Regions from separate parts of the Homo sapiens genome. Here region 1 is linked to region 2. The links come from fine-mapping of genetic effects on gene expression. A gene starts in region 2. The other region holds a variant in brackets. All regions are shown on one strand. Distances are from middle to middle.

Region 1 (16,659 bases), 930 kb before region 2:
ATTTCCCATCTGTTTTCATCGATAATGAGAAGTGTAGCTCAGTTGTGAAAAACGAAATTTTTTTCTCTTTTTCTGAATTTGCACAGGACCATCACTCAGAATTAATGTTGGGTTTTTGGAGATGTGTGTGGTATGTGTGTGTTTCCATTTCAACAACCTCTCTGTTCAACTAGAAGAGGAAACTGCCACACTTTCAACTTAGAGTGGTGGATGATGTGGCAAAGATGACTGGACCTGGAAAACCCACCCACCTGGATATCTTCTGAAAAGTCTTCACTTCATTTCAGGAATTAAAGATTCTCAGCCGGACACGGTGGCTCACGCCTGTAATCCCAGCACTTTGGGAGGCTGAGGCAGGTGGATTACCTGAGGTTGGGAGTTCGAGACCAGCCTGACCAACATGGAGAAACCCCGTCTCTACTAAAAATACAAAATTAGCCGGGCATGGTGGTACATGCCTGTAATCCCAGCTACTTGGGTGGCTGAGGCAGGAGAATCGCTTGAACCCTGGAGGTGGAGGTTGCAGTGAGCCGAGATCGCACCATTGCACTCCAGCCTGGGCAATAAGTGCAAAATTCCATCTCAAAAAAAGAAAAAAAAATAAAAAACAGAAACAAAAACAAAAAAAACCCATAAAGATTCTCATAGCACAGATACCAGTCAACCTCACCAGCTTCACCCTTGCAAGAAAGCCACTTTGTAACCTGTACATACAGTTACTCTCATGCTTCTGGAAATCTCCTGGGTCTCCTGGTCTCCTGGATCCACAGCTGCCTTGGGTAGAGGAGAGGGAAGGGGTGAGAATAAGGTATGGGTGATGTCAGTGATGGCGTGAAGATGTGAGGTCCATTCATCAATCCATCTTATGAGTATTTGTTGAGCAGGTGCTCTGGAGCAGGCACTGTGGTAGGCTCCAGAGACACTGTGTTCATGAATAAGACACAGATCTGTGGCAGACAGCTAGTTGTCTCCCTGTATTTATATTATGTATTTATTTTTTGAGACAGGGTCTCACCCTGTCACCCAGGCTGGAGTGCAGTGGTGCAATCTCGGCTCACTGCAACCTCCACCATGTTGGCCAGGCTGGTCTCGAACTCCTGACCTCAGGTGATTTGCCTGGCTCAGCCTCCCAAAATGCTGGTATTACAAGCATGAACCACCGTGTTTGGCCTGTCTCCCTATATTTAATTTCCTCTCCTTCCCTAGTATTGATAATTGCCAGCTAAAGCCTACAGTGTGCAGGTTCTTTTGCTATTAGGTGTACTCATGTGACCAAGTTGTGGCTAATGTAATGAGTGGAAGCAGTGTTTGCTACTTTAGAGAGCTCAGCTTTTAAAGTATTCAACTTATGCACCTCTCATCCTTTTCCTCTTCTTATTGACAAAGAGGTAGCAAGAACTTGGCAGCTTGACTGAGAGATGGAAGCTACATATTGAGGGCAGCAGAGCAATCCCATCAGCTAGAAGGTTATATGAAAAAATTATATATGTGCAGCTTGTATAAGTGACATTATTTGGAGTTCTATTTGTTAAAGCACTTTAGCCTGTACCTTAATTAATGCAAGCTTTGCCTTCCTTGAGCTTACAGTCTACAGGGAAACTTAGTAATCAACTGATCTCAAAATAAATATATAATTACAAACTGAGTTAAAAGTTACATATGTAAGGGCCAGGTTCGGTGGCTCATGCTGACATGAGCCCACACTTTAGGAGGCTGAGGCGGGTGGACTGCTTGAGGCCAGGAGTTCAAGACCAGCCTGGCCAACATGATGAAATCCCATCTCTACTAAAGATACAAAATGTAGCCGGGTATGGTGGTGCACACCTGTAATCTCAGCTACTCAGGAGGCTGAGGCAGGAGAATCACATGAACCTGGGAGGTGGAGGTTGCAGTGAGTCAAGATCGCGCCACTGCACTCTAACCTGTGTGACAGGGTGAGACTCCGTCTCAAAAAAGAAGAAAAGAAAATTGTATTATAAGAGCATTTAATGAAGAGATTTGGCCTAATCTGAGGGGCTTAGGGAATATTGGAGAAAGCAAGAGTGGAGTAAATGCCAGAGGTGTGTTGGACATAGTATTTGAAAATGTATTATTTATTTATTAATTTTTAAATTTTTTTAGAGATGAGGGTCTCACTCTATCACCCAGGCTGGAGTACAGTGGTGCAATCATGGCTCTCTGAAGCCTCAACCTCCTAGGTTCAAGCAATCCTCTCCCCTCAGCCTCCTGAGCATCTAGGACTACAGGTGCATGTCATCATGCCTGGCTAATTTTTTAATTTTTGTGAAGACAAGGTCTTGTCGTGTTTCCCAGGCTGTTCTTGAAATCCTTGGCTCAAGTGATACTCCTGCCTCAGTTTCCCAAAGTGCTGGGATTACAAACATGAACCATGTACCTAATGATAATTAAAAAAAAAAAATCATTGTGAGGAGCACCTCTGCCCAGCTGCTGCACCAACTGGGAAGTGAGGAGCGCCTCTGCCTGGCTGCCGTGCAACCCTCCAGGTGTGAAGTGGCAGCCTTGTGTGTGATCTTTCTGCCATCCCCAAGTTTGCGTTTTCGACAGTAAAGTTTACTTTTAAATTAAAAGATTTAAGTTGGGGAAGATTAAAGAAAAAAAAAACAACAACAACGATTTTACATTAAGCCAGTTTTGTTTTTTGAGGGCCATTACCTAAATGCATATCTTCATGAATTTCTCTGCCTGGTGTAGTGCATGAGCTTGAGGGAGAAAGTCTAATAAGATGTACAAATTGTAAGTCACATAAAAAGGAAAAATACTAAATTTTGAACAGAACAACGTTACTGGTATTTATATTATAATGCTTGGTTTAAAAATAAAAGGTGGAGGCCAGGCACAGTGGCTCACACCTGTAATCCCAGAAGTTTGGGAGGCTGAGGCAAGTGAATCACCTGAGATCAGGAGTTCGAGACCAGCCTGGACAACATGGTGAAACCCCGTCTCTACTGAAAACACAAAAATTAGCTGGGCATGGTGGTGCATGCCTGTAATCCCAGCTACTCGGGAGGCTAAGGCAGGAGGATTGCTTGAACCCAGGAGGCAGAGGTTTCAGTGAGCCGAGATTGTGCCACTGCACTCCAGCCTGGGTGACAGAGTGAGACCCTGTCTCAAAATAAATAAATAAATAAAAGAGAAAAATGTTTATATAAGGTAAATCTATCTAGACAAACATGAGGACAGATGAAGTACAAATAAGATCCAAGCAAAAAGTACAAACTATTTCTTTTATAAAGGAAAAGAATGAGGTTATTTTTTGTCTAAATCATTGGCTTATTGTCCACAATGATCAGATGCAACTGAAAGACTGTGCAAATGTCTGCTCATTTTGTATAGACTTGAAGCCAGAGACTAATTACAACAAATAGTGTGTACTGACAGGAAAAGACAACACATAACTAGAACAATGCTTCACTAAAGAACAAGAAGCACTTTCAGAATGATAGACACACAAGCAAATTTAATAAGGTGATGCATAAATGTGCAATTTTACAAGCAAGGAACATTGCATCACTGGAAGACATCCAGATACAAGAATAAGAAAACCAGTGGGAGAGGCCAACTCATGAACTGAGAGTTGACCACTTAGTCTGATTATTCTATGTAGCATCTTTGTTTCTGTTATGCCTAATATGGAGATAATTTGGACTTGAAACCATGGGAGATTGACTAGATCCTCAAAGTCAATCTAAAACATATCTACTAAATCACACCTTGTATAAAAATTAAAAAACAACAACCACTAATTATGGAAAATAGTAGCAACTCTTAGCCTATATTATCCCATGGTGGAGAATTTTAGTATCCCCAAATTAAGATGCAATAATGTGGGAGAAATAGATATACCAAGTAAAATATGATATTTGCAAAAAGTATTGCCTTTACTAATTAGTTCACATGTTAAACTAAATATAATTTGCCTTGAGTACCGTAGAGACCAAAAAAATATTCACTGGAGGAGAAGAGAGAAGAATGAAAAATGTATGAATGGTTAAAAATACCAATATAACAATGAACATATTTTTTCCATATAAATGGAAAATTTTGCCAGTGGATATAATCTTAATAATTATGATGATGATGCAATTTTCACTTCATTAGAATTCAAGTTAAATAAGTTACTGAAAGTGTTTTCCAAGAGAGTTCTGATAATTTAAACAAATCTCTTCGTGAGAAAATAGTTTACTATTATGTTTTAGCTGTATCAGCATATAAAGAATAGAGTGTGCATTTCTGGAAAGCTAATTTTAAAATAGGAAAGAAGAATTTTTAAAGGCTCCATTGAAAATATCACCCTCATTTACTCTGACATAATTAAAAACATTTTTTTTTGCCTGAGTCTTCTTGCTAGGGAACATAATTTTATTATAACAAAAGTCATATCTAATTCAAGTTAAATATATGTTAATATCATGATTCAATTATGACTGCTTTAGAGAAACAAACATTTCATCATTTAGAAAATAAATTGTGATACCATCTTAAGTGGAAAATAGAAAAAACTAATAAAAATAGAAAAAATCTATTTGTTCAGGAAACATTTTAATATCCATAATCATATCTATGTATTATTTCATCATTTTTAGGGCATTATCACAGACATCACATTGTTTTGAGATCTGTAAAATCCATGTGAGAGCAGGCACTTATTCAATAGGTACTTACCTAGCACCAACTATGCGCCAGGCACTGAAAAGCACTGAGGATTTAATGTTGGGCAAACAGAGAGTCACTGACTTCTTGGAGTTTATAGTTTCCTGGGAAAGGCAGCCAATATATTTGATAGTTCTTAAATATAAGGAACTATGACATGTTAGAGAAACTTAAAGTTGGTCAATGTGGTTAAAGTACGGAATGAAAGAACGGTTAAGCCTGGAGAGAGAACCGAGTGCTGTTAAACTGGTTCTCCTGCATGGAGGAGAGAGGGGAGGTGTGGGGAAAACCCTTTGTAGCATTTGCCAGTTTCCACAGGATACATACTCTCCCCACATCCAATGATTCAGCAATCAGCTTGCAAATTTCCAAAATATTTAACCATCTGCATGCAGGTGCCAGCCAGTATGAGCCAGATCCAACGCACTCCTTTTCTTCCCGAGAGGCTAGATCACAGAGGATCCTTGTATGCCATAAGGAGTTTGATTATTATCTTAAAGAGCAATGGAAAGCTATTGCATTGAACATATTTTTATTTTTAAAATAAAACTTTGACTATAGCATGGATTAAAATGGGATGCAATGAGACAATTTCTGAGTACAGTGTGAGAGTCCAAGAGAAAGATGATGATGGCTAGAATAAGAGTGATGGCAATAGAGAATAAGCAGTTGACAAAGTCAAGAAACAATTTGATGGTAAAATCAACAAGTCTTGATGGACTAAGACGCAAGGCAGAGGATGATGTCTACAGGTCTCTGGCTTGCAAAACTGGAAGAGTGGATGGGTGGTGGTATCAAGATAGAAAACCCTTGGGTCGGGAGAAATAGTTTTAGAGGAAAAGATCATGAGATCAGTTTTGAATTTGTAGATTTTGATGAATCTTTCGTTCAGATCTCCAGGTAAAATGTTGAGTGGGTAGTGAGATATGCAGATTTGGAGATTAGGAGAGGTTTGGGCTGAAGATAACCTTTTGGGAGTCAAAGTTTAAATTACATGATAATTGATACCATGCACCGATATTATAGCCTAGGGAGAAAATACAAAGTGAGAAAAATGAGGACACTTAGGAATGATTATTGAGAATATGCAGCATTTAAAGACAAGCAGAAGAGGCTGAGCCAGGATAAGAGGGACACCATGGCCAGTGGGTAGGAGGAAAGCCAGGAGACTCCTTGGCTTCTCTTGGTCACAGAAGCCAAGAGAAGAGAGCGCTCAGGACGGATGGAGGGGGCAATGTTGCTGAATGTCGGGTAAGGAAGTAACTTGTCCAAGCTCACCCTGGGGATTGGGATGCAAACATTCTCACTGCGTTTGTCAAGAACAAATTCTTAGTCTAACCAGAGCAAATAGAAAGAAAAGATATTTCAAGGATACGCAGATTTCATTGAGAAATGAAGACAGTATCTGAGATTAATGAGAATTGGAACTGGAAAGAGCTTACCTTTTATGTCATTGTATTTGATTATAATTATTACATGTAGCATTGGATATGATTATGCTATGTTATTAGCATTAACTGTGAGTTTACTGTGAGACACTGCTCTGCACTTCACATGCATCTTTCTTTTGATTCTAACAATCCTGTGAGAACGATACTACTATTAGCTTCATTTTACAGATGAGAAAAATGAGTTTTAAAGAGGTTAAGTAACTTGTTCAAGGTCACACAAGTTGATAGGGGAGCCAGGGCTCAGAGATAGATTTAAGTGATTCCAAAGCTCCTACCCTTGAACAATGTACAGATTGGCATGAATCAAGGCATCTATTCCCAGGAGCCAGGCATGATGGCCTCACACCTGTAATCCTAGTGTTTTGGGAGGCCAAGGCAGGAGGATCATTTAAGGCCAGGAGTTCAAGACTAGCCTGGGCAACATAGCAAAACCGTGTCTCTAAAACAAAAATAAAATAAAATAAGTTATCTGGGCATGATGGTACATGCCTGTGGTCCTAGCTACTTAGGAGGCTCAGATGGGAGGATCACTTGATCCTAGGAGCTCAAGGCTGCAGTGAGCTATGATACCATACCACTGTACTCCAGCCTAGGTGACAGAGTGAGACCCTGTCTCTATTAAAAAAACAAAAAGTGTCTACTCCCTCGATCACCCCCACCCCTTTAGAGGCCCAGTCACCTCTGCTCTCTGCAGAATGCTCCATTCTCCGTTCTTATGGTGGGCTTCCTCAGCATCAGCTTGCATATGACCCATCATAGTCTTAGCCCTGATTCTTTATGAGCTTAGTGTCCACACATCTCAATTATAAACCTCACAGAAGAACGTGCTCAGACCAGTTCATCTAGGATGTAGAAGGAAGGCAGGTGCCCTCTCATGATTCAAACAGCTATGTCTAGGGATTGAGGTCATAAAGAGAATAGTGATTTGGGGCAGGGACTGTTACCTCAGAGGGAAGCAGAAACAAGATTGCTATCTTGGATATACATACTCTCAAATTCTCAGTCTTTTTGTATCTTCAACCTTTCTTCTGACTTTTTTCTAAACATATAAACATGTTCCTCTCAGTTTTAATCAGACATTTTTAATGGTAAATGACAGAAACTCAGCTACAATTTATTTAAGCAGAAAGAGAAATTTTCTTATAGAAATACTGATTATCTCAGATCTTGAGAGAAATAATGTTTCTGGGTCTCAGGAACAATCGGAAGTAAGTAAGGATCGAAATGGTGCTAGCACTCATTTTTCTTTCTGTTAGTCTTTCATCTTCGCATTTCTCTATATTTTTATTTGTCTTCCTCATTGCAGGTTGCTTTTCAAAACATGATGGAAAACATGATTGCCAACGAATTTTACAGTTTATAGTTTCAATCACTGAAATGAAATTGATTTGGTATTTCTCCAGTATAAAATCTAAAAATCCCATGGTGGGGAAACTGGCTCATTTGAGTACATTAGCCACTCCTCATTCATTCAGGTGGTTCACTGGTATGGATTCTTTAGACCAATTTGGATTAGATTAACTACCAATTAATTCTGACAAGGAAATGGATCATATAAGAAACATGATATATCTTGACTGGGCGCAGTGGCTCACGCCTGTAATCCCAGCCCTTTGGGAGGGTGAGGCAGGTGGATCACTTGAGATCAGGAGCTCGAGACCAGCCTGGCCAACATGGTAAAACCCCGTCTCTCTCTACTAAAAAATACAAACATTATCCCAGCGTGATGGCAGGCACCTGTAGTCCCAGCTACTCAGGAGGCTGAGATAGGAGAATTGCTTGAACCTGGGAGGCAGAGGTTGCAGTGAGCTGAGATTGTGCCACTTCACTTCAGCCTGGGCAACAGAGCAAGACTCCATCTCAAAACAAAAACAAAAACAAGAAATATGATATCTCTCATTCTTCTATCCCATGTTGGTGGAACTGCTTTGGGAGGACATTGGAAGAAGTTTCCAGGAGAAGCAGGTTGCTCCATTCTCAACTTCATGATGACTGGTTTCCTCTGCTTCAGTTTGCACATGGCCCATCAAAGTCTTATCCATGAGCTCTATTCTCATGAAGGTGCTGAGCTAACTACAGTCTTCCTTCTCACCTTCCTTTTCGCAGCCCAGCTTATTTTCAACTCATATTCATTTTCTTTATCTTAAAGTCAATTCTTCATCTACTGCAGTTTGACCTACATTCTCACTACTCCAAGAAACTACTTTTGCCAAGATTGTCACTAGTTAGTGCAATAAACACTCTTCAGTCTTTTTCTTACAACAACTCTCTTCAATTTATGTCATTGTTCACTAACTCCTATGTGACAAAGGCTTCCAATTGCTTCCCAGGATCCTTTTTCCCCTTTTTTCTTATTAAATGGAACCCATTGCTCACCTGGAATTATGGCTGTCTAGAATAAGATTTATTTTTCCCAGCCTCCTTTGAAGTCAGATATGGCCATGTGGCTAAATTCTGCCAATGGATTGGAATTAGAAATGTTGTATAAAATGTAGAGTAAGTGTCTTTCAAGGTAGTGATGCACTCTTCTTCGGCCTGTCCTTTTTCCTTCTGGGATGAATCTTGAGCAACCATCTTGGACGATTAAGATGCAGAGTAGAATGTAGAAAGAACTGGATGATAATAGAGGCCCCACACTAGTGTAGGCTGCCTAACTATACATCTAGTCT[A/G]TGTGAGAAAGGACTGTAACCTGCAACTAAGTATAATCCTAACAGATACATACTTTTTTCTTGAAACTCCCTTCCCTTTCCTCTGTTTACTCTCTGTAACTCTGCTCCCTACTGGCCTTCTTCCTACTATTTTAGATTTTCTAACTCAGACTTATTTTCCTTGATCCATCCCTTGTCTCCAGGGTTCTGTCTGGTGATCTCTGAATATTCTAATATTTTATATGTGAAACCTCATCAATACTCACACTTAAAATTGCTATATTATGTTGTTGACTCAGAAATACAAGTTTCTAGTCTTTCCCTCCTCTTCCGACTGCAGACCCAAGTATGCCTTAGCCTCTGAATGATTTTAACTTTTTAACATTCCTTAAGTTGCTTACATCAGTTAGTGACCCCCCTATCTTAACTGCTGCCTGAGAAAGAAGACTGAATTTCTCTCGACCTCCCTAAATGGTCTATTGCAGCAGTCTTATACTGGTCTTCTCTTATTTAAATTCTTTTCCACATTGCTGCCAAAGTTGTCTATATTTTTTTTTCTTTTGTCAGGGTCTCATTCTGTTGCCCAGACTGGAGTGCAATAGTGAGATCATGGCTCACTTCAGATTCAATCCCCTGGGTTCAGGTGATCTTCCCACTTCAGCTGCCAGAGTAGCTGGGATTACAGGCATGCACCACAATGCATGGATAATTTTTATGCTTTGTAGACAAGATTTTGCCACCTTGCCCAGGCTGGTCTCAAACTCCTAGGCTCAAGAGATCCACATGCTTCAGCCTCCTAAAGTGCTGGATTATAGACATGAACCACTATGCCTGGCCAAAGTTGCCTTCCTAAAACCAACTCCAATCATGATACTTTTCCAAATAAAAAATCTTTTAATGACTCTCCATTGTCCAATGTCTTAATGTGCATAACAGAAATTTCAGGTACTGCTTCTCTCTCCAGACTCATTTTCAGTAACGTCTTCAGATTCCAAACTTCCAAAAACACTGAACCATTTGCAGCTCCCACCTGAGCCATGCTCTTTGTAGATGCGGGATGCTTTGAAATACAGTTTTTCTACAGTTTTTCTCTCCTCTCGTTTCATAGCAAATTCCCACTTATCCTTTGAAACTCAACCCAAAGATTCTTTCCTCTATAAAGTTTTCCCTGATATCATCAGGTCTATGTAGATTGATGCTTTTCTTCAATGCTTCTAATAACTACCTAAATAGGTGCAAGCCTGCATTACATCTGCTACGTTGCGAATCACTTTAGTTACACATCTGCATTTTTGACTTGAGCTAGAGCTTATTTTTTTATATCTGGAGTGTCGTCTTCTTCCTGGTACACTGTAGGTATTTAATAAAGTGTTAAAATTATTAATTTATAAAGATAAAAATATGGGAAAAACTAAAGTTCTGTTTATTACTAAATTCATCTTGAAACTGATTATGAGCTCATCAAAAATAGCATTCCCAAATCAGGCTGCTACTCAGTACATGATTCTCTGAGTGGCCCTGTCAGTATCACTCTTCCTTTTATGCTTCCCCCGTATCCTTTGCATTGGCTATTAATCCAAAAGCAGAAATTCTAAGTCCACCTGGGCCAACAGGATATTCCCCCCACAGGCATTTGAAAATGACTTGAGGTTTGTCAGAAATGCAAGTTTCTGAGAGCTGAGTCATCCAATGTGAGTGTCTTACAGAGAGGATTTGTGAGCAGCCAGCCCTGATGATTTCCCTGGATCTGCTCCCATTTCTGTCCTCTCCAAAGACTATGTACACTGCTCTTCCTTTGATTTTGTGAGCAGCCCTTTTCACACACTCCCTTATTTCACTGAGATGAGCTAAAGTCAGTTTCTTTTCTTATAAATGAAAGAATCTTAACCAAAACACCAATTATAAAAATACTGAAGGACTGCAAACACTATTGGCTGATTCACTATTCTGCGGGTTAATGACTAGGTTCTCATAAATGCACACAGCGAAGCTCTTTGAGCATACAGATTTTATAGCTTTCTAAGAGGTTAGATTTAGCAGAAACAAAGGTAGGCAAATTCATGGTACTTTTCCATAAAACCACATGAACTCAATTTAAATATTGTTTTCATTTCAGGTGTCCTTTTTTCATGTTTTTTCATAAAAGAACATGTTTCACCTTCTAGAAACAGTCTTTTCACTTCAAATTTAAAATGCCATGTTAAGTTAGCATAGAATTTTGGCTTCAATTGTTCCTAGATGTTAGGTCCACTTCTCCTCAATGCCAATTAAAATGACATAGTCTGATGTATGTGTATCTGATGTTTCCATAGCAGCTAACACTAAGCAGCTTTACTTCCTAATTAGCTTGACGGTACACTGTGAAATTCCTTCGATCCAAAGATGAGATGTTATAAGATATGGCCTTTGTGTAAATATAACCTTCTATGACAGGAAGCCAAAAAAGCAAAATTTATCCAGATGAAACAGAAAGGGGAAATGTGCTCAGCCAAAGTGTTAAATTCAAGCTGAGATTTGGCAGAACACTGGGAAGAAAATATCCTCTACTGTTTTGTTATCACACACACACTCAGTGGAATACTTAATAATCAGAAGGAATTTAAGGCTTGGTTCTGTAATGCAGTTTGGCAACTGGCATCTCCAGTACCCGAGGTCTGTACATATCATCACAACACATTATTTAATACTGATTTAGAGGACACATCAGCCTGCTGATTCAGCTCCACTACTTCCTGTCAACAATAGTGATAATATTATAAAAACTCTCTTGTACCCAGTGGTTATTTAACAAAGTAGTCTCAGCTCTCAGGAAATAGAAAATAATCCATCAAGCTAAAAAACTTACCAAGAATTCAAAGCAGCATCTCAAAGTCCAGGTGCTAAAGCTGATCTGATCTGTATTTTCTCTTATGTTAGACTTAATTCTAACATAAAAATTTAGTTTTATGGCTCCCAAAAAATAAGCAGCAAATCAGAAGATAGAGACAAGTGACTTCTATTACACTGACAGTGAAAGAGGGGAAAGAACATCATAGAAAAAGCAAGAATAAAACTACAAAATGTGTACTTGTCTGGAGTCACTTCAAAGAAGGACAAATATTGGTGTAAGGAAGAGTCTTGGTGAAGAAATAAAAGAAAGAAAGAAAAAGCACAAATAGCCCAATTTAGCTTAGTAGCCCCAGCGGCAACTCTGTATTATTATTGGAAGGATGGGCATCCTGAACTATCAAGAAGAGTTTGGTAAATTCTGTGTAGTGGCCTCTAGTTATGAAGAAAGCAGCTGGGTGGGGTGGCTTATGCCTGTAATCCCAGCGCTTTGTGGGGCTGAGGCAGGCTGATCACTTGAAGCCAGGAGTTCAAGGCCATCCTGGTCAACATGGTGAAACCTTGTCTCTACTAAAAAAATATATATATACAAAAACTAGCCAGGCATGGTGGTGCATGCCTGTAATCCCAGCTACTCAGGAGGCTGAGGCAGGAGAGGAATTGCTTGAATGCGGGAGGCCGAGGTTGCAGTGAGCCGAGATCATGCCACTGTACTCCAGCCTGGGTGCCTGGGCGATGGAGCTGTTTAAGGAAAAAAAAAAAAAAGAAAGCAGAAACGTATTTAAATTTCAAGAAGACTTTATTATAAGACTGAATTGAGGCAGGGGCAAGGGGAGGATACTGAAGGAAGAGGAACAGCAATGAGTCCCAGGAACCAAGAACAAAATAGATGCGACTAAGGGCTCAGTTGTTGCAGCAGACCTTACCATGAAAGACTTGGAAGGGGAAACAGAAAGGAGGGCTAGGAGGAGTAACTAGAATTGCAAGACAAGCACATAAACTGCTCTAGGGTCTTGGGGAAGAGAGGCCTTGAGATGGTAACAGAAGAAATCACTGTACAAAAGAGACCCATACAGTGTAGTGCAGGTTGCTGTGGAAGGTGACAGGCCTCATGGCTTAGAATTCATCTGCAGCCAGGTGTAATTTGGGAATAAAGTAAAATTATTTTAGTCATGCATCTATAAACAGGTACTTTGATATCTAATACCAAATGTTTTATTTTATTTGAAAAGCATGTTTGCTTTATTTTGAGCAAGCATCATGCTGTGAATTAGTGAAGGCATAAAAGATAATGAAGAGATTCTTCCAAGATGGCCAAATAGGAACAGCTCTAGTCTGCAGCTCCCAGTGTGATCGACACTAGAAGACAGGTGATTTCTGCATTTCCAACTGAGGTACCTGGTTCATTTCATTGGGACTAGTTGGACAGTTGGTGCAGCCCATGAAGGGCAAGCCGAAGCAGGGCGGTGCGTCGCCTCACCTGGGAAGCAGAAGGGGTGGGGGGATTTCCCTTTCCTAGCCAAGGGATGCTGTGACAGATGGTACCTGGAAAAACGGGACTCTCCTGCCCAAGTACTGCACTTTTCCAACTGTCTTAGCAAATGGCATACCAGGAGATTATATCCCATGCCTGGCTCAGTGGGTCCCACGCCCACAGAGCCTTGCTCACTGCTAGTGCAGTAGTCTGAGATCAACCTGTGAGGCAGCAGCCTGGCAGGGGGAGGGGCATTCGCCATTGCTGAGGCTTGAGTAGGTAAACAAAGCAGCTGGGGAACCTCGAACTGGGTGGAGCCCACTGCAGCTCAGCCAGGCCTGCTGCCTCTGTAGACTCCACCTCTGGGAACAGGGCATAGCTGAACAAAAGGCAGCAGAAACTTCTGCAGACGTAAACGTCCTTGCCTGACAGCTCTGAAGAGAACAGTGGTTCTTTCAGCATGGTGTTTGAGCTCAGAGAATGGACAGACTGCCTCCTCAAGTGGGTCCCTGACCCCCGTGTAGCCTAACTGGGAGACACTTCCCAGTAGGGGCTGACTGACACCTCATACAGGGAGGTGCCCCTCTGGTAACAAGCTTCCAGAGGAAGGATCAGGCAGCAATATCTGCTGAGGGACCTGACTGTTAGAAGGAAAACTAACAAACAGAAAAGAATACCATCAACATCAACAAAAAGGACATCCACACCAAAACCCCATCTGACCAAAGGTAGATAAAACCACAAAGATGGGGAGAAACCAGAGCAGAAAAGCTGAAAATTCTAAAAATCAGAGCACCTCTTCTCCTCTGAAGGATCACAGCCCCTCGCCAGCAACAGAACAAAGCTGGATGCAGAATGACTTTGACTAGCTGATAGAAGTAGGCTTCAGAAGGTCAGAAATAACAAACTTCTCTGAGCTAAAGGGGGATGTTCGAACCCATTGCAAGGAAGCTAAAAAACATGAAAAAAGATTAGATGAATGGCTAACTAGAATAAACGGTATAGAGAAGACCTTAAATGACCTGATGGAGCTGAAAACTATGGCATGAGAACTACGCAGCGCATGCATAAGCTTCAAAAGCCAATTCGATCAAGTGGAAGAAGAGTTATCAGTGACTGAAGATCAAATCAATGAAATAAAGCAAGAGAAGTTTACAGAAAAAGTTAAAAAAGAAATGAACAAAGCCTCCAAGAAATATGTGACTATGTGAAAAGACCAAATTTGTATTTGATTGGCATACCTGAAAGTGACGGGGAGAAAGGAACCAAGTTGGAAAAACACTCTGCAGGATATTATCCAGGAGAACTTCCCTAACCTAGCAAGGCAGGCCAACATTCAAATTCAGGAAATACAGAGAACACCACAAAGATACTCCTTGAGAAGAGCAACTCCAAGACACATAATTTTCAGATTCACCAAGGTTGAAATGAAGGAGAAAATGTTAAGGGCAGCCAAAGAGAAAGGTCGAGTTACCCACAAACAGAAGCCCATCAGACTAACAGCAGATCTCTCAGCAGAAACTCTACAAGCCAGAAGACAGTGGGGGCCAATAGTCAACATTCTTAAAGAAAAGAATTTTCAACCCAGAATTACATATCCAGCCAAACTAAGCTTGATAAGTGAAGGAGAAATAAAATCCCTTACAGACAAGGAAATGCTGAGAGATTTTGTCACCACCAGGCCTGCCTTACAAGAGCTCCTGAAGGAAGCACTAAACATGGAAAGGAACAACCGGTACCAGCCACTGCAAAAACATGCCAAATTGTAAAGACCATCGATGCTAGGAAGAAACTGCATCAATTAATGGCCAAAATAACCAGCTAACGTCATAATGAGAGGATCAAATTCACACATAACAATATTAACCTTAAATGTAAATGGGCTAAATGCCCCAATTAAAAGACACAGACTGGCAAATTGGATAAAGAGTCAAGACCCATCAGTGTGCTGTATTCAGGAGACCCATCTCACATGCAGAGACATATATAGGCTCAAAATAAAGGGATGGAGGAAGATCTACCAAGCAAATGGAAAGCAAAAAAAAGCAGGGGTTGCAATCCTAGTCTCTGATAAAACAGACTTTAAACCAACAAAGATCAAAAGAGATAAAGAAGGCCACTACATAATGGTAAAGGGATCAATTCAACAAGAAGTGTTAACTATCCTAAATATATATGCACCCAATACAGGAGCACCCAGATTCATAAAGCAAGTCCTTAGAAACCGACAAAGAGACTTAGACTCCCACACAATAATAATGGAAGACTTGAACACCCCACTGTCAACATTAGACAGATCAAGACAGAAGGTTGACAAGGATATCCAGGAATTGAACTCAGCTGTGCACCAAGCAGACCTAATAGACATCTACAGAACTCTCCACCCCAAATCAACAGAATATATATTCTTCTCAGCACCACATAGCACTTATTCCAAAACTGACCACATAATTGGAAGTAAAGCACTCCTCAGCAAATGTAAAATAACAGAAATTATAACAAACTGTCTCTCAGACCACAGTGCAACCAAATTAGAACTCAGGATTAAGAAACTCATTTAAAACCACACAACTACATGGAAACTGACCAACCTGCTCCTGAATGACTACTGGGTACATAATGAAATGAAGGCAGAAATAAAGATGTTCTTTGAAACCAATGAGAACAAAGACACAATGTACCACAAGCTCTGGGACACATTTAAAGTAGTGTGTACGGGGAAATTTATAGCAGTAAATGCCCACAAGAGAAAGCAGGAAAGATCTAAGATTGACACCCTCACATCACAATTAAAAGAACTAGAGAAGCAAGAGCAAACACATTCAAAAGCTAGCAGAAGGCAAGAAATAACCAAGATTAGAGCAGAACTGAAGGAGACAGAGACACAAACCCCTTCAAAAAAATCAATGAATCCAGGAGCTGGTTTTTTGAAAAGATCAACAAAATTGATAGACTGCTAGCAAGACTAATAAAGAATAAAAGAGAGAAGAATCAAAATAGATGCAATAAAAATGATAAAAGGGATATTACCACTGATCCCACATAAATACAAAAACTACAATCAGAGAATATTATAAACACCTCTACACAAATAAACTAGAAAATCCAGAAGAAATGGATAAATTCCTCAACACATACACCCTCCCAAGACTAAACCAGGAAAAAGTTGAATCTGTGAATAGACCAATAATAGGCTCTGAAACTGAGGCAATAATTAATAGCCTACCAACCAAAAAAAGTCCAGGACCAGATGGATTCACAGCCGAATTCTACCAGAGGTATAAAGAGGAGCTGGTACCATTCCTTCTGAAACTATTCCAATCAATAGAAAAAGAGGCAATCTTCCCCAACTCATTTTATGAGGTCAGCATCATCCTGATACCAAAGCCTGGCAAAGACACAACAAAAAAAGAGAATTTTAGACCAATATCCGTGATGAACATCGATGCGAAAATCCTCAATAAAATACTGGCAAACTGAATCCTGCAGCACATCAAAAAGGTTATCCACCATGATCGAGTTGGCTTCCTCCCTGAGATGCAAGCCTGGTTCAACATACACAAATCAATAAACATAATCCACCACATAA
Region 2 (16,659 bases):
TCAAGCCATTCTCCTACCTCAGCCTCCTGAGTAGCTGGGATTACAGGTGTGTGTCACCACTCCTGGCTAATTTTTGTATTTTAATAGAGACAGGGTTTCAGCATGTTGGCCAGGCTGGTCTCAAAATCTTGACCTCAGGTGATCTGCCCACCTCGGCCTCCCAAAGTGCTGGGATTACAGATGTGAGCCACCACACCCGGCCTTATTTTTTTATTTATTTATCTTTTTATTTTCTGAGACAGCTTACTTTTTAAATGTTTGACATATTGTAAACAGTAACAAACTACACTTATGTGGTATAAACTTTGTATTTAGAAGACTTGGACACTTTTACAATATATCTATTACATTAACCGCAAGAGATGGGGTCTCCCTATGTTGCCCAGCTGCCCTCAAACTCCTGGGCCTAACTAATCATCCTCCTTCCCCAGTAGCGGGGTCTACCAGTGTGTGTCAGCATGCCTGGCTTAACCACTTTTATTAACATAGATTCACAAAACTGAGGGGTTGAAAGAAATATAGTTGAACATGTATATAAAAGGCCAGGTCCCTCCTTACTTGGCATTTCCTCCGAAAAGTTGAAAATACCATGTATTTATTTGTCTTTATGCATTTTTTACAATGCTTTGATGAAAATGTACTACTTAGGCCAGTGTGGTGGCTCCCAGCACTTTGGGAGACCGAGGCGGGCAGATCCCTTGAGCCCAGTAGTTCAAGATCAGCCTGGGCAATATGGCAAAACCTTTTCTCTATGAAAAATACAAAAATTAGCTGGGCATGGGAGCACATGCCTGTGGTCCCAGCTACTCAGGAGGCTGAGGCAGGAGGATTGCTTGAGCCCAGGAGGTCAAGGCTGCAGTGAGCCATGATTGCACCACTGCACTCCAGCCTAGGCAATGGAGCGAGACCTTGTCTCAAAAAAATAAATAAATAAATAAATAAATAAGAAAAAAAGGCTGGGCGCAGTGGCTCACGCCTGTAATCCCAGCACTTTGGGAGGCCGAGGCGGGCGGATCACCTGAGGTCGGGAGTTCGAAACCAGCCTGATTAACATGGAGAAACCCTGTCTCTACTAAAAATACAAAATTAGCCAGGCATGGTGGCACATGCCTGTAATCCCAGCTACTTGGGAGGCGGAGGCAGGAGAATCGCTTGAACCCGGAAGGCAGAGGTTGCGGTGAGCCGAGACTGTGCCATTGCACTCCAGCCTGGGCAACAAGAGTGAAACTCTGTCTCAAAAAAAAAAAGAAAAGAAAAAAAAACTTACTACTTTTATGAATTTGACAAATATGAAGAAGAAATGTGGTTGGGCTTATAATTTTTGCTAACAATAAGGCTTTACATAAATACAAGATATTACTACTAATCTAAATCTGGGCTCAATTAATAAGTAAAAACTTTCTTTCAATTAAGGATTTTTAAAAATTAACTATATTTTTTCATTAATAGAGCAAATACAGCATCATCCTGATCTTAGATTAAAAATAAAAACAATCTGTCAGAGGCCCTAAAAAGTGTTTCCAAATATGATTCTCTCTAATATTTTATCTCATCTTACATTTAAACTTGATACCTTGGGCAGAATCTCTGCTTGGGCAGTAGATAGTCTGAAGAAGGATTAAACATTCACTTCAAGAAAATGTTTTTTCATCACTTATTTAATAAATTAACAAATAATCTATAAGTCCATTATTTATTCATGGTGTGAAAGACACTATCCCAAGAACTAATCATTAAACGAAATGATTACGTGTTCTAGAAAAAAGTACTAATAGGGAATATACAGTAAAAAAGTTTCATATATTTATTTTTTTAAAAAAATTAAACTTCTACTTTCCCTCCCTTCAATGTCCATTGTTAGGAGAATGGTACATAAATTACGATACAAGCATAGCTAATACAATTCAACTTTTAAAATTATTTTACTTTTATTTTTATCTTTTGAGACAGGATCTTGCTCTGTCACCCAGGCTGAGTACAGTGGCACTATCATGGCTCATTGCAGCCTTGACCTCCTGAAGTCAAGCAATCCTCCTGCCTCAGCCTCCAGAGTAGCTGGGAGTAAAGGCACACCCCACCATGCCTGATTAATTTTTTATTTTTTGTAGAGATAAGTTCTCACTATGTTGCCCAAGCTGGTCTTGAACTCCTAGACATAAGCAATCCTCCCACCTCAGCCTCCCAAAGTGCTGGGATTATACATGTGAGCCACCACACCCGGCTGCAGTTTAGCTTTTTAAACAAGATATATTTTAATCTGGAAAGATGTCTATAAAATATTTTTAAACAAGAAAAAAATTCAGAGTTATATAGCATTATTCCAAATGTATTTTTAATAAGAAAATGCAAAACAAGGATGATACACATGTATGTATACATAACTAAGCACCGAAATATTATGGAAGAAATAACATTAGTTACTTCAGGAGAGACTGTGGGAAGAAAGAGACATTAATATTTGTTATATGTTTCCATATTGTTTCATTTACTATGAGTGGATATTACTTTGGCAATTAAAATAAGAGAATAAGTTTTTTTTAAACTAAACTTTTTCTATTAAAGCAGGTACTTAAATGGCATTATAGGTTTGCAAATAATGCTAAAATAATTACGGCTAAAACTTTGCAGAAACAAATCATGAAATATCTATAAAAACTATTAAACTTTAATATTTTTATAATGGTAAATGCTAAGTGAAGTTATAATAACAAGCTAAGGTCAATTTTAAATTATCATGCAACATATCCTTTTCCAAATACTCTTTATTATTTTAAGGTAAGATTATCTGAAGGTTCAAATATATAACAAGATATCTTAATTCACACGAAGAAAAATATGCTTCAATTTGACAAATTCCAGGTCTAGCAAAAACAAAACATGAAAGATTAGAGAGTGTATTCTGGGTGCGGTGGCTCACGCCTGTAATCCCAGCACTTTGGGAGGCCGAGGCAGGCGGATCACGAGGTCAGGAGATCAAGACCATCCTGGCCAACATGGTGAAACCCTGTCTCTACTAAAAATACAAAAAAAGTAGCTGGGTATAGTGGCGTGCGCCTGTAATCCCAGTTACTCGGGAGGCTGAGGCAGGAGAATCTCTTGAACTTAGGAGGCGGAGGTTGCAATAAGCCAAGATCGCGCCACTACACTTCAGCCTGGCGACAGAGCGAGACTCTGTCTCAAAAAAAAAAAAAAAAAAAGAGTATAGTCTAATCATTCAAACCCTTCATCCACCACCACACACACAAAAAAAGAAAAGCCAACCTGATTTGTTCTCTGTGTCATCAAAGTCAACATTGAAGGAATGGCCGCTGTTGCTGATGATTTTAGCTGAGCTTGGGTCATACTTGATACTAAGTGGTCGGAGGGAAGAGTCATATTTCACTTCTTTGGTTTTAATCTCAATTGGAGATTGCTGATCACCATCAGCAATAGGGAAAAATTCCTTCCAGTGAATAGGACCTTAAATATATAGGACCAAAAGAAAAGGATTAAATAAGTTCTTTCTTTCAACAAACATACATTGAGTATAACACACTGTGCTTGAAATTGAAGAAAACGCAAAGATTAATAAAATGAGATTCTCGTCCTCAGGACCTTGGCATCTAATTGTTTTTTTTTACAAGATTAGTTGTTTTTATTATAGATGTGGGAAACTCTTGGTGTGCCTTAAGTCATGTTCAGAATTAAAGTAACCCTTGTAGACAAGAGTCTGTAAATTTTATAAAATACTCTCCAAAGGTAACCTTCTACCAAACTAAAAACAATAATACAACTCATCATTGAAAACAATGACATTCAGTCTCAGCTCCAAAAATGAGCTATTGCTCCAGAGTTCAAGTTTGCAGATTGGAAGAGTCAAAAAAGCTGAGAAAGCCATGAAGCAAAGAAAGGGTGTCATTCTTAAAGATGCTGTGCTTACTTCTTTATTCTTCCTTCTATCACTCAATGCTATCGTCTAGTGTCACTCAGGCCTCCACTCAATTACCTGTGATGTGCAACAGGCATACCAAGGAAACACACAAATTTTTCACCTAGGATAATCCAAATAAAATGGCTGCACCACGTCAGGAAACGTAATATTGTTGATTATCTGCAGTAGAGTCAGATTGTAATTTATTTCTCTCTTTCTTCATTTCAGAAGGTTCTTCTATGGTTATTTTGCCAATGTTACATTTGAATTTCAACACAAGAGAAAGGTATCATCCTGGTCCTCTACTCAAAAACGTCAAAATCGTATCAAGTTCACAAATCAGACATGTTAGGGAAATTGAAACGAGCCAATCAGCTAACAGTTCCCTTTTCAATCCTCTTCACTTCTTTGGAAGACTCTATAAAGTCTTGCCTCTCAAAATCAGCAGCAAAGCTGTAGTTTCACGTAAGTTCCATGTCATTCTACAGATGTGAGTCACTTTATAGGTTATAGGTTCTTATTCTCTCTACTATTCCTGAAATTTATACAGCTATCACCACCTACACTGGGCTACTGACTAAGGTTTACCCACCTACTTTGCTAACCAATCTTTCACTAAAAATCAAGTACTAATTAAAACATCATAGCATGACAATTAATTAAACCTGTTACTAACGACAACCAAAAACATTTTAAAATGATAAAATTTAGAGTAATATTTAAAGAAATGCAATATATCACAATCATCAACAAACTTTAAAGCATAAAATTCTAAATCTTTTTTTTTTTTTTTTGAGACAGGGTCTTGCTCTGTTACCCAGGCTGGAATGCAGAGGTGTAATCTCAGCTCACTGCAGCCTCAACTTCCCAAACTCAAACAATCCTTCCACCTCAGCCTCCCAAGTAGCTAAGAGTACAGGTGTGCACCACCACACCCAGCTACTTTTATAAAAAACTTTTTTTTGTTGAAAGTCTCACTACAGGCTGGTCTCAAACTCATGGGCTCAAGTGATCCGCATGTCTCAGCTTCCTGAAGTGTTGGGATTACAGGCATGAGCCACCACGCCTGGCCCAAACTCTAAATCTGATACTGCTTACTATGCCTCATTTTTGCAAAAGAGAACTCACACATACATACATTCTTTCATATATGCTTCAGGCACAAAAAGTCATAGCATAAATATATAACTATACACTCAGCTTAAAAGATGTCATCTGACAAACTGGACTTCAAAGCCACTTGAGCATCAGAAGTCCTTGCTTAGAATGTATTACAGAAAAAGCCTTTTTTATTCAATACTTTCACCATCTTTCTGAGTACTTTTTCTATATATAACCTAGACTTTTTTCCCCCTTAATTCAGAAAAAGCCTTCTATTTCACTGCCACCAAGTAAGAGTTAACCTAACGAAAATTCAATTTCAAATGCGCAATGCATGTGTTACAATATGCAGGTGACATTCTTCCAATCAATAGAGTTGCTTTCTTCTCCTAATTGCTTTGCTCTCCTATTTCCAGTCATTTATAAACAGAACTATTTTAAAAAGAAGTCAAACCAAAATAAAATAAAAGTAATAATTGTTTGTATCACATTCCCAATATTATCTACTAACTACCATAGTCAGTTCAGTACCCTGCCTCTTAAAGAGGTCCCCTTTTTCAATTTTTCCAAAAAAAATTTCCTCCTCTCCTCCTTCTCCTTGTCCCCCCCATGACCCTGCAGGCTAGTCTGGAACTCCTGGCCTCAGGCAATCCTCCCATCTCAGTCTTTTGAGTAGCTAGGATTACAGGTGCAAGCCACCATAATTCTTTTTCTTTTTTTTTTTTTTTTTGAGACAGAGTTTCACTCTTGTTGCCCAGGCCGGAGTGCAATGGCGTGATCTCCGCTCACTGCAACCTCTGCCTCCCAGGTTCAAGCAATTCTCCTGCCTCAGCCTCCCAAGTAGCTGGGATTACAGGCACGCACCACCACGCCCAGCTAATTTTGTATTTTTAGTAGAAACGAGATTTCTCCATGTTGGTCAGTCTGGTCTTGAACTCCCGATCTCAGGTGATCCACCCACCTTGGCCTCCCAAAGTGCTGGGATTACAGGCATGAGCCACCGTGCCCAGCCAGCATAATTCTTAATTAGAGATATGTGGTGGTTGCTCAACTGATTTAGGAACTTTTAAATACCTACAGTGATATACACTTTTCAGTGATGTCACATTCGCTAAACTAAACTAATAAAGTAGTCAAAGGTTAGGGGAAGAATCCTAAGTTATTTGTGAAGGCAGTACCCTTTCAGGGCTTCAAGTCTTGATGTTTTATTTTATCAGTGTTGCTATTCCCAGCTTAAGTTTCCTTTTATCTGCTCAGTCACTGGTTTACCAATGTTTAAACAGAAAAAAAAAAAAAAACAAAAAACTTGCCTAGTTAGGCCCAGAGCTGTGGCTCATGCCTGTAATTCCAGTACTTTGGGAGGCCAAGGCAGGCAGATCACTTGAGGTCTGGAGTTCTAGACCAGCCTGGCCAACATGACGAAACCTTGTCTCTACTAAAAATACAAAAATTAGCCAGGCATGGTGGCTCATGCCTATAATCCCAGCTACTTGGTGGGGCTGAGGCTGGAGAATCGCTTGAACCCAGGAGAGGGAGATGGCAGTGAGCCAAGATAGTGCCACTGCACTCCAGCCTGGGCAACAGAGCAAGACTCATCTCAAAAACAACAAACAAACAAACAAAAAACTTGCCTAGTTAGTATATAATACATTTCCAATAGGATTTTCCCAATCTTTCTCTGAAGACCACACCTTTAAGTAAGGATGTGGTCTTCAGAGAGAGATCGCATCTAAAAGAAAGGAATGGCTAATTCCTAACAGAACAATTCCTAACAGAAATACAAAATCACTCCTTATTAATGGCTTTGCTAAGATGAATTTTTAAAATTGCTGAAATAAGCTTCATTCAGGTGAATAATTTCTAACCTACTAAAGAGTAATCAATATCCATTGATTGATTGATTGAAATACCCTTCTTCTTCCTAACTACCATAAAGGCGCAGTTGGGATTCAATGACTATTAAATAACTCCAATAAAAACGACTTCAGCAGAGAGGGAAATGAAAAAAGATTTGTCATATTTTCCCCCTAAACATTCACTGGAAATTAGCAAAATGTAAGATTATAATTATGGCCTTAATCAAGAAGAAATCTGACTATACACCTTTTATTATTAAAGTTATAAATTTCACCTGCTGCCATTTTTAAACTAGCATGTTTAAAAACAGGCTACAATTAGAAATTAAACAGGCTACAATTAGAAATAGAATTTTTCTGTTAGTTTGTGAAATTAAACTTTCTATAAAATTTGACCATTCTATACTGTTTAATCATGTACATGCTAATAGAAGGAAAGCATTATTATTCACAGCCTTAATTTTTTTCTTTATTATGTATTTACTTCTTAAATTGACAAAAATTGTATATATTTATGTGTACAACATGATGTTTTGAAATATATGCACATTGAGGAATGGCTAAACTAAGCCTTAATTTTGACAGTTATTCACTATAAGGCTTTTTGGTGTCACTGCGATTATTTCAAATAATTATTATTTAAACAATCAGTTCAGTTTAACGTAGGAACAAGAAAAAATGTTTTACTTTTGATAATGTGTGATATACAAGAAGAAAAGTGTATGTCATTATTATTTATCCTATTAATACATTTCTATCAATGAATTATAATTTCAGTAATCCTTTGCTCACCCTGCAAGGATGAGCGTGGAGAAGAAGAGTGGAGAAGTAACCCACAATGTAACTTAATTTCCCAGCGAGAACCTGAACCCTTACTAAAGTCCCCAGTAGTAGTCAGCCAACTGCAAATTGCTGTGGGAATATTTACAGTAACAACTATTAGGAAACATGCAGTATTTTGTTTGCCACGAAGCCAACTTAATCTTCAGTGTCACAATGCAAGTTAAGATTTCCTAAATATATTTTTAAAGATTTTCTATGATTTGTTTCTCCTAAGTGAATAGTGAGCTTAAAAGACTGAAAGCGAACTTGTCCTTATTTCACTGAAGTGTGTCATCAGACTTCTGATCTCCAAGCCTGTAATTGATACGTGGCTGTTACTAGGCAAAGTCCTTGGCTTTTCAGATGAAGGTGAACTCACACGTATGAACACTTGGGAGTTTGGGGAATCCTGACAGAGATAACACACACCAACGCTCACATCCACCACCAACAACCCGTCTACCCTGACAAGACTGCTCTCCGCTTCTCGCACTGGGCTCCCAGGAGTGCTGCTTAGTTTAAAGAGGAACCGAAAAAGTTTCTCAATGTGCGAGCCCAGTGTGTGGTCAGCGAGCGCCGGGGCGTCGCGCTAGTCCTCTCGTCCCCCGCACAAACCCCCCCTTGGATCAGGAAAAGGCGCTCACCGTTGTGCTCGCGGTATCCCCAGCTGAGCCTCGACATGGTCCCTCGGGGTGGAAGGAAGAGAAAGATGTGACTGAGCAGCGAGAAAGAGGAGGGAGCGGGGAGGGGCCCGGGAAGGAGCCTGCTAGGGCGGGACCGCGGGGCGCCGGCGGCAGGAGTGCGAGACCGTGAACCCGGTCCGGGGCGCTCCCGCCTGCGTCCTCCAGACGGCAGAGGCGTGCGGGGAAGGCGCCCGCGCCGCTGGCTGACTCCTGGGGCGCGAGTCTCTCTTAGTTTGGACTCGGGAATGAGAGATTTGAGTTAGAGGGAGAGACGGAGAGAGAAAGGTTTCCGGGGGGGATCTCCTGCCTTCTGAGGAGTCGTCACTCGGGAGAGGAAAGTGTTGCCTAGAGGACTTCCAGGAAGTGAATGAGTCACCAGAGCCTGGAACTGCCAGGCTGGGAGGTGGGGATCCCGGTGGAGGCGTAAAAGAGGTCGGTGATGGTCGTGGCAGTGATGATTACAAATACAAAACAATAATGACGATGGTAATCACCACCACTGAAAAATAACTACTTATTAAGGGCTTATCGTGGGCGAGGGTCTTAGCTAAGACGTGTACCCACGTTTTCCCATTAGATCCTCTCAGCATTTCCTCGAGAAACACGTGGCTTAAGTTAGAGACACTATGTAACCTGCCCCGGGTCGCTCAGCTAAAGCGGGCGGGGTCGCTGTTAGAGAGGACCAGCTCCCGGTCCTGGGCTGGCTCCATTGCCCATTCATCCTTTCCTTACCTCTTCTCACTCTGCAGGCTTGTGGCTTGGTGAGTGAGGAAACCAAAACCAGTTGTTGAGATTTGGTCCCAAAATTCTGCTGCCCTCCTGACCCCGCAAGAAGGGTTTTCAGGACATCTGCCCTGGATTCTTGGTGGGCTTGTTACCCTAGGACTGGAGTCAGAACTAGCTGCAGAGTCTTGAATTTCTGGCCTGGAGTCGTGAATGTTCTGGGTTCAAAGTGAAAAATAAAAATTGGGTACATGAACCACTTTCTACGTCCTTGTCTCGGGTCAACTGCCTCATATTTTATAAATCCAAGCAACCTCTTTGTAAGGAACCTAGTAAACCAATTTTCAGTAACTCGGATGATTTGGTATGTCAAGATGAATAATGCTCTTAACGTTCTAAGTAAGTATCAGTTCTTGACACCCAATAATAGTGGTTACATGAATGGATGAATGACTGAATAGACCAAAATTGTTAAAGAAATTTTGGTTGGTGGGTCTCAAATACTTCCCAAATTGTTACTTTTATTGCTTGGGTACACAGTTTGTAACCACCCAATGGGTTTACCTTGCCCACTGTCAAGACACAGCTGATTTATCAAGACAGGGGAATTGCAATTCATAAAGGGAAATTCACGTAGAGCCGGCTGTGCAGAGGACTGGAGTTTTATTATTACACAAATCAGTCTCCGCAAGCATTGGGGATCAAAGTTTTTAAGGACAATTTGGTGGGTGGAGGAGAGCCAGTAAGTCGGGAGACCTGGTTGTTTGGGTCAGAGGTGAAATCATAGGGAGTCAAAGCTGTCTTGCATTAAGTCAGTTCCTGGGTGGGGGCCATGGGATCAGATGAGCCAGTTTATCGAGCTGAGTGGTGCCTGCTGATCCATCCAGTGCAGGGTCTGCAACATATCTGAAGCACTGGTCTTAGGCTTTACAATAGTGATGTTATTCCCAGGAGCAATTTGGGGAGGGTCAGAATCATACAGCCTCCAGCTGTATGACTCCTAAACCATAATTTCTAATCTTTTGGCTAATTTGTTAGTCCTGCAAAGGCGGTCCAGTCCCCAGGAAAGAAGGTTTGTTTTGGGAAAGGGCTGTTATTGTCTTTGTTCTAAACTATAAACTATGTTCCTCCTCAAAGTTAGTTCAGCCTATGCCTAAGAATGAGTAAGGACAGCTTAGAAGTTAGAAATAAGATAGAGTTGGTTAGGTCCAATCTCTTTCACTGTTTCAATTATAATTTTGCAGTAGTGGTTTCAAGTTCCTTCTTGTTTAAATTCATAGCGCAGTCTATATAATTTTCTAAAACAGCAACCTAAGTATTGGCAACAATCAAATTACCTTTCATAGGAAACTAGTTAGGTCATCTGTAGAGCATCCATCATTCAATGGACTTATATATATATATATTTTTTTCAGATGGAATTTCGCTCTTGTTGCCCACGCTGGAGTGCAATGGTGCGATCTCGGCTCACTGCAACCTCCACCTCCCAGGTTCAAGCAATTCTCCTGCCTCAGCCTCCAGAGTAGCTGGGATTACAAGCATGCATTACTAGTGGCTAATTTTTGTATTTTTAGTAGAGATGGGGTTTCACCATGTTGGCCAGGCTGGTCTCCAACTTCTGACCTCAGGTGATCCACCCGCCTCGGCCTCCCAAAGTGCTGGGATTACAGATGTGAGCCACTGCGCCCAGCTGCCATTCAATGGACTATTGTCCATTTATAAAAAGAATGAAGATCTCCATGAGCAGAGCAGATATAAAGTGAGTCCTGGGATGTATTGAGGTTGCGGGAGCGGGGGAAGCAAAGGAGCAAAAGAGTGTATATAATAGACTGCATGTTTAAGAAAAAAATAGAAATAAGAAACTGCACACATATTTTCAGATTTTTACCAAAAAAGTAGAGAAAAAGCCATAAATTAATAAAAATAGTTCCTTATAGAGGATGAGTGTGAATGGGGTGGAAGTGTCAGAGGCAATGGAACCACAGCAACTCCATTCAAATCTTATTATATGCTAATTATAATGCATTCACATGCTAAAAGACACTCCCACCAGCCCCAGGACAGTTTACAAATACCATGACAACATTTGGAAATTACCCTATATGATCTAAAAGTGGGAGGAGACCTCAGTTCTAGGAAATTCCCACCCTTTTCCCAGAAAACTCATGAATAATCCACCCCTTGTTTAGCATGTAATCAAGAAATAACCATAAAAAGTAGACAACCAGTTGCCCTTAGGGCAACTCTGTCTATGGAGTAGCCATTCTTTTGTTTCTTTTTTTTTTGAGATGGAGTCTCTCTCTGTCGCCCAGGCTGGAGAGCAGTGGCACGATCTCAGCTCACTGCAACCTCCACCTCCTAGGTTCAAGTGATTTTTCTGCCTCAGCTTCCTGAGTAGCCGGGACTATAGGCGCCCACCACCACGCCCGGCTAATTTTTGTATTTTTAGAAGAGACGGGATTTCACCATGTTGGTCAGGCTGGTCTCGAACTCCTGACCTCGTGATCTGCCCACCTCGGCCTCCCAAAATGCTGGGATTACAGGCGTGAGCCACCGCACCGGCCCCTTTTTTTCTTTACTTCTCTAATAAACCTGCCTTTACTTTACTCTGTGGACTCAACCCAAATTCTTTCTTGCATGAGATTCAAGAACCCTCTCTTGGGGTCTGGACTGGGACCTCTTTCCAATAACAGAGGGAGAGGGATAAGTGAAACTTCTCAGTGTATCTTTTTGACTTTTAATCATAAATGTCGTAAATTAACTTTAGCCTAAAGCTGCCTCCTTACATATTTTAGTCCAGCTTAAAGTTTTCTGTGTATATAGTGAACTCTAACCTAACTAGATGTGTAAATAGACTGTAGCCCACTCTTGTGCCAATCACTGAATGTTGGCCAATCAAAGGCAGCCAACTGTTCAAACCCTGTTCAACTGAGGTAAACTTTGAGCTGTAACCAAACCAGCTGTTTCTGTACCTGACTTCCATTTTCTGTCCATCACTTTCCTTTCTCTGTCCATCAATCTAACCACACAGAAGGGCCAGAGTCTCTCTGAACCTATTCTGATTGGAGACATTGCCCAATTTGCAAATTGTTCTTTGCACAATTAAACTCTGTTCAATTTAATTTGTCTAAGATTTTTCTTTTAACATTGTTCTGCATTTTTAAAAAATAAATTTAAATTAAAGAGAATAAAAAAGCAAACCCTGAAATTGAATTCAAACAGAAACAATTAAAATTAATTGTATATTGAATTGATAATGTAACCATAAAGAAAAAGTTAAATAGCGTTCGACTATAGTACTTTGGCTATATATCCTTAGTAGGACATATAACATATTAAGAAGAAATGAAAGAAAATCTTGAACATTACTAGTAGGTTTGTTTTTGGTAGGATATTGGTGTTATGCTTCTGAAACCATTTTTTATTGGTTTGTTTGTTTGTTTTGAGATGTTGTTTTGCTCTGCCACCCAGGCTGGAGTGCAGTGGTGCAATCTCGGCTCACTGCAACCTCCACCTCCCGGATTCAAGCGATTCTCCTGCCTCAGCCTCCCAAGTAGCTGGGATTATAGGTGCCCACCCCCATGCCCTGGCAATTTTGTGCTTTTAGTGGAGACGGGGTTTAACCATGTTGGCCTGGCTGGTCTGGAACTCCTGACAAGTGATCCACCAACTTCGGTCTCCCAAAGTGCTGGGATTTACAGGCATGAGCCATTGTGCCTGGCTGGAAACCACTTGTGTGAAAATAGTAAGATAGAGCAAATGAACAAATATATTGATAATCTCTGGAAGCATGATTTTCATTCTGGTTTATACAAAATAGGAAATGACAGAAGCTAAGAAATAAACCCGTGGTGTTGCATTTGAACATTCTCTTCACTGAAAGATCCCAAGAACAATAATATCCCAATAATAATGAAGCTAATAAACCTTAAAATATATAGCCCTTCACTGAGGGACCACTTCTAAAGCCATATACTAATTTTATATTTGTAACTTTACATTCCTTTTCTTTAAAAAAAAAAAGTCCCAAAATTGTAGTAGCTTCAGGCTCTACAAATCTGAATCTACCCCTTGCTATGAGACACTGAAACTGCCCAATGGGTTCATCTTGCCCATTTCCTAGGCAGAACTAATTATTGATGAAGACAGGGGAATTGAAATAGAGCCAGCTAAATGAGTGACTGGAGCTTTTTTGTTTGGTTGGTTTTTTGAGACAAGGTCTCATTCTGTCACCTAGGCTGGAGTGGAGTGGTGCAATCACAGCTCACTGCAGCCTCCACCTCTCAGGCTCAAGCATCCTCCTGCCGCAGCCTCCCACGTAGCTGGGATTGCAGGCATGTGCCACCATGCCTGGCTAACTTTTTTTTTTGTAGTGGGGAGAGACAGGGTCTCACTGTGTTGCCCAGGCAAACTATGAGCCCAGTCAAACTCCTGGGCTCAAACAATCCTCTTGCCTTAGCCTCCTCCCAAAGTGCTGAAATTACAGGTGTCAGCCACCATGCCCTACTCAAAGTTTTATTATTACACAAATCAGCCTCCCACCACATTCCAAGGTTAGGGTTTTTCAAGAATAGTTTGGCAGGCAGGGGGCTAGGGAATGGGTGATGCTGAGTGGTTGGAAATGCAATTACGGTGGTGTAGAAAATGGTCCTCATGAGCTGAGTCCACTTTTGGGTGGGGGCCACAGAGGAGTTGCTGGTCTGGGTGGGGCCATCTGGTCATCATACATGCAAAAGCCTGAAAAAACATCTCAAAAGGTCAATCTCAGGTTCTACAATAGTGATGTTATTTATGAGAGTAATTGGGGAAGTTGAAAATGTCGTGAGCTACAGAACAAATAAATGGCTTTGGGAAGGGTTATTACCATTGAAATTATAAACTAAATTTCTCCCAAAGTTAGCTTGGTTCACACCCAGAAATGATCAAGGGCAGTTTGGAGGTGAAAGGCAAGATGAAGTTGGTTAGGTAAGACCTCTTTCACTGTTACAATTTTCTCACTATTATGATTTTTGCAAAGGTGATTTAAACACTAGCACCCAGATCTTGTTTCCTAAACACCATTCCCCCTTCGAAGGAACCAGAGCTATTTGGAGAAGTGACTAGTTTTGTTAGCAGCTGCGAACCTGTACAGGTCTACAACAACCTCAATTCTTGCCTCCTCAGAAGAAAGAATTTGACCAAGGGGCATAGGGCAGAGTGAAAGACCTAGGCAAGTTTTAGAGCAGGAATGAAAGTTCACTAACAAGTTTAGAGGGAACAAAAGGAAGTAAAGTACACCTGGAAGAGGGCCAAGCCAGCAACTTGAGAGATTGAAGTGCACTGTTTGACCTTTGACTTGGGGTCTTATACATTGGCATGCTTCTGGGGTCTTGCAATCCTTCTTCCCTGATTCTTCTTTGGGGTGGGCTGTCCGCAGGCATAGTGGACTGCCAACACTTGAAAGGGGCTGTATGCACAGTGTGTTTACCAAAATTGTGCACATGCTCACTTGAGGGGTTTTTTCCTTACCAGTTGAGTGTTCCTAAAGGAAGGTCATATACCAGTTAAACTCTGCCATTTGCCTCTTAGTGTGCATGCTTGAGACCACTCAACCAACTCCTGAGATCCTACTGGGAAGCTGCTGATCACCAACTTTAAGTGTTTCTATCTCTTGGGAGACTGCCTTTTCCTGATGCCAGCTGCAACCAATTATTATTTTAGAGAAGCAGTTTGATAACCGCCTGACCATCACCTGATGGTTGTCTGACATTCTTGGTTGGGGGGCAGTAGGGGCTCTCCTGCCCTGCTTAGGTCTGCTTGACTACCTACATAACAGTTTCAGGTCTAGAGCAGAGAAAGACTAAGATGAGCCTAGAACATATTTCTTATGCCAGAAAGCTAGAAAGCATTCAAACACACACACACACACAGACACATTCACACACACAGACACATTCACACACACACACATACACAGATACGCACAAATAAGGTAGCTTGAAGGAGGAACTGCTGACAAATTTGGGATAATTTGACCATCAAAAGAAATAATGATAGTAATAGATTATAACTCCCCACCCACCAAATATCCATCAGTGCATAGTGATGCTGAGAGAGAATGAGAGATCTTCTTTATGTCCACTAGCAAATACAGATGAAATGATAAAATTTTAAAACCACCATTTTTGCAAGGCCTATATAATCTCTGTATAATCTCTGATTCAGGCAAGGATCAGTAATGGGTACTAAAACTTCTGGATGAAAGGATATTGGGGAATAGGATATTCACACAGTCTAGGATTAAAAGAGACAAAAGATATGTAACAGCTAAATGCAATGTATGATACTTAATTAGATTCTAGGTTACATAAAAGCTGTAATAAATATTTGGGAGACATTTGGAGAAATTTAAATATGGACAGCATCTATGTGATATTATTAATTGATACTAATTCTCTCAGGAGTGATAATGGTACTGAGAATGATTTAAGAGTTCAACACTAAAGCTACAGGGCTGAAGTACTTTTTTTTTTTTTTTTTTTTTTTTTGAGACTGAGTCTTGCTCTGTTGCCCAGGCTGGAATGCAGTGGCGCAATCTCGGCTCACTGCAACCTCCTCCTCCCTGGTTCAAGCAATTCTCCTGTCTCAGCCTCCTGAGTAGCTGGACTACAGGCACACACCACCACGCCCCGCTAATTTTTCTATTTTTAGTAGAGACAGGTTTCACCATATTGGTCAGGATGGTCTTGAACACCTGACCTTAGGTGATCCACCTGCTTCGGCCTCCTAAAGTGCTAGGGCTGAATATCTTGATGTCTGAAACTGACTTCCAAATGTCTCAGTAAATAATTGATTAATCTAGCTGGAGGATATTTGGGAGCTCATGATAATATTCTTACTTTTTTTCCGTAGGTTTGAAATTTTTTCAAAAAAAAAAAAACAACTGAGGAAACAAACATCTTTTTACTTCTTCAAATCAATGAATCCATTAACTTACTAAATAACTTTCATAACTATTTGTGTGGTTTCTCTTTAACAAGGAGCCTCTGTCTCCAGGCTTACAACCATTAAGTGTAATCAAGTAAAAGAAGACTAACACTGGTTGGGCACAACCTGTAATCCCAGCACTTTGAGAGGCTAAGGCAGGAGGATTGCTTGAACCCAAGAGTCCAAGACCAGCCTGGGCAACACAGTGAGACCCTGTCTCTGCCAAAAAAATATATATATATATTAGCCAAGTATGGTGGCACCCACCTGTGGTCCCAGCTACTTGGGAGGCTGAGGTAGAAGAATCACTTGAGTCTGGGAGGTGGAGGTTGCAGTGAATTGCTTGAGCCCAGGAGACGGAGGTTGCAGTGAGCTGTGATCATGCCACTGCACTTCAGCCCGGGTGACAGAGTGAGACCCTGTCTCAAACAAAAAACAAAAACAAAAAGACTAACACTAACCAAATAACCCAGAAATGCTGACCCACGATATGGTCATCATCTCCACCTCACTCTTTTTTTGGTCAGTGGAGATGTGTGTTTTTTTTTCACTTCACTTTTGAACTGGTTAGATCCAATTTAAGCTCCCTTAAGGAACA

Direction of the effects. Positions count from the first base shown, and alleles are read on the strand shown. Sizes are in standard deviations (SD) of each study's normalised expression.
For the expression in lung of the gene that starts at base 8,741 in region 2, allele A in region 1 goes with a higher level than allele G (moderate effect, 0.45 SD a copy in GTEx).

Evidence for each region. PIP is the estimated chance that this variant, and not a neighbour inherited with it, causes the effect.
Region 1: its variant is fine-mapped to the expression of CA13 in lung (GTEx, PIP 0.96).

The regions. Positions count from the first base shown.
Region 1 is chr8:86,170,762-86,187,420 of GRCh38, reverse strand. LOC105375623 (a long non-coding RNA gene) reads right to left here and starts at 6,953. Exons shown (of 5, transcript NR_188044.1): 1 at 6,802-6,953; 2 at 715-774. The variant A/G (reference allele first, on the strand shown) is at 8,792.
Region 2 is chr8:85,237,540-85,254,198 of GRCh38, reverse strand. It overlaps CA13 (carbonic anhydrase 13), which reads right to left and starts at 8,741. Exons shown (of 7, transcript NM_198584.3): 1 at 8,334-8,741; 2 at 3,262-3,459. The coding sequence starts at 8,370. It overlaps LOC105375936 (a long non-coding RNA gene), which reads left to right and starts at 10,714. Exons shown (of 3, transcript XR_929126.3): 1 at 10,714-10,854. It overlaps LOC124901969 (a long non-coding RNA gene), which reads right to left. Exons shown (of 4, transcript XR_007060985.1): 4 at 16,329-16,480. RefSeq lists an enhancer at 7,937-8,046 and a silencer at 8,407-8,486.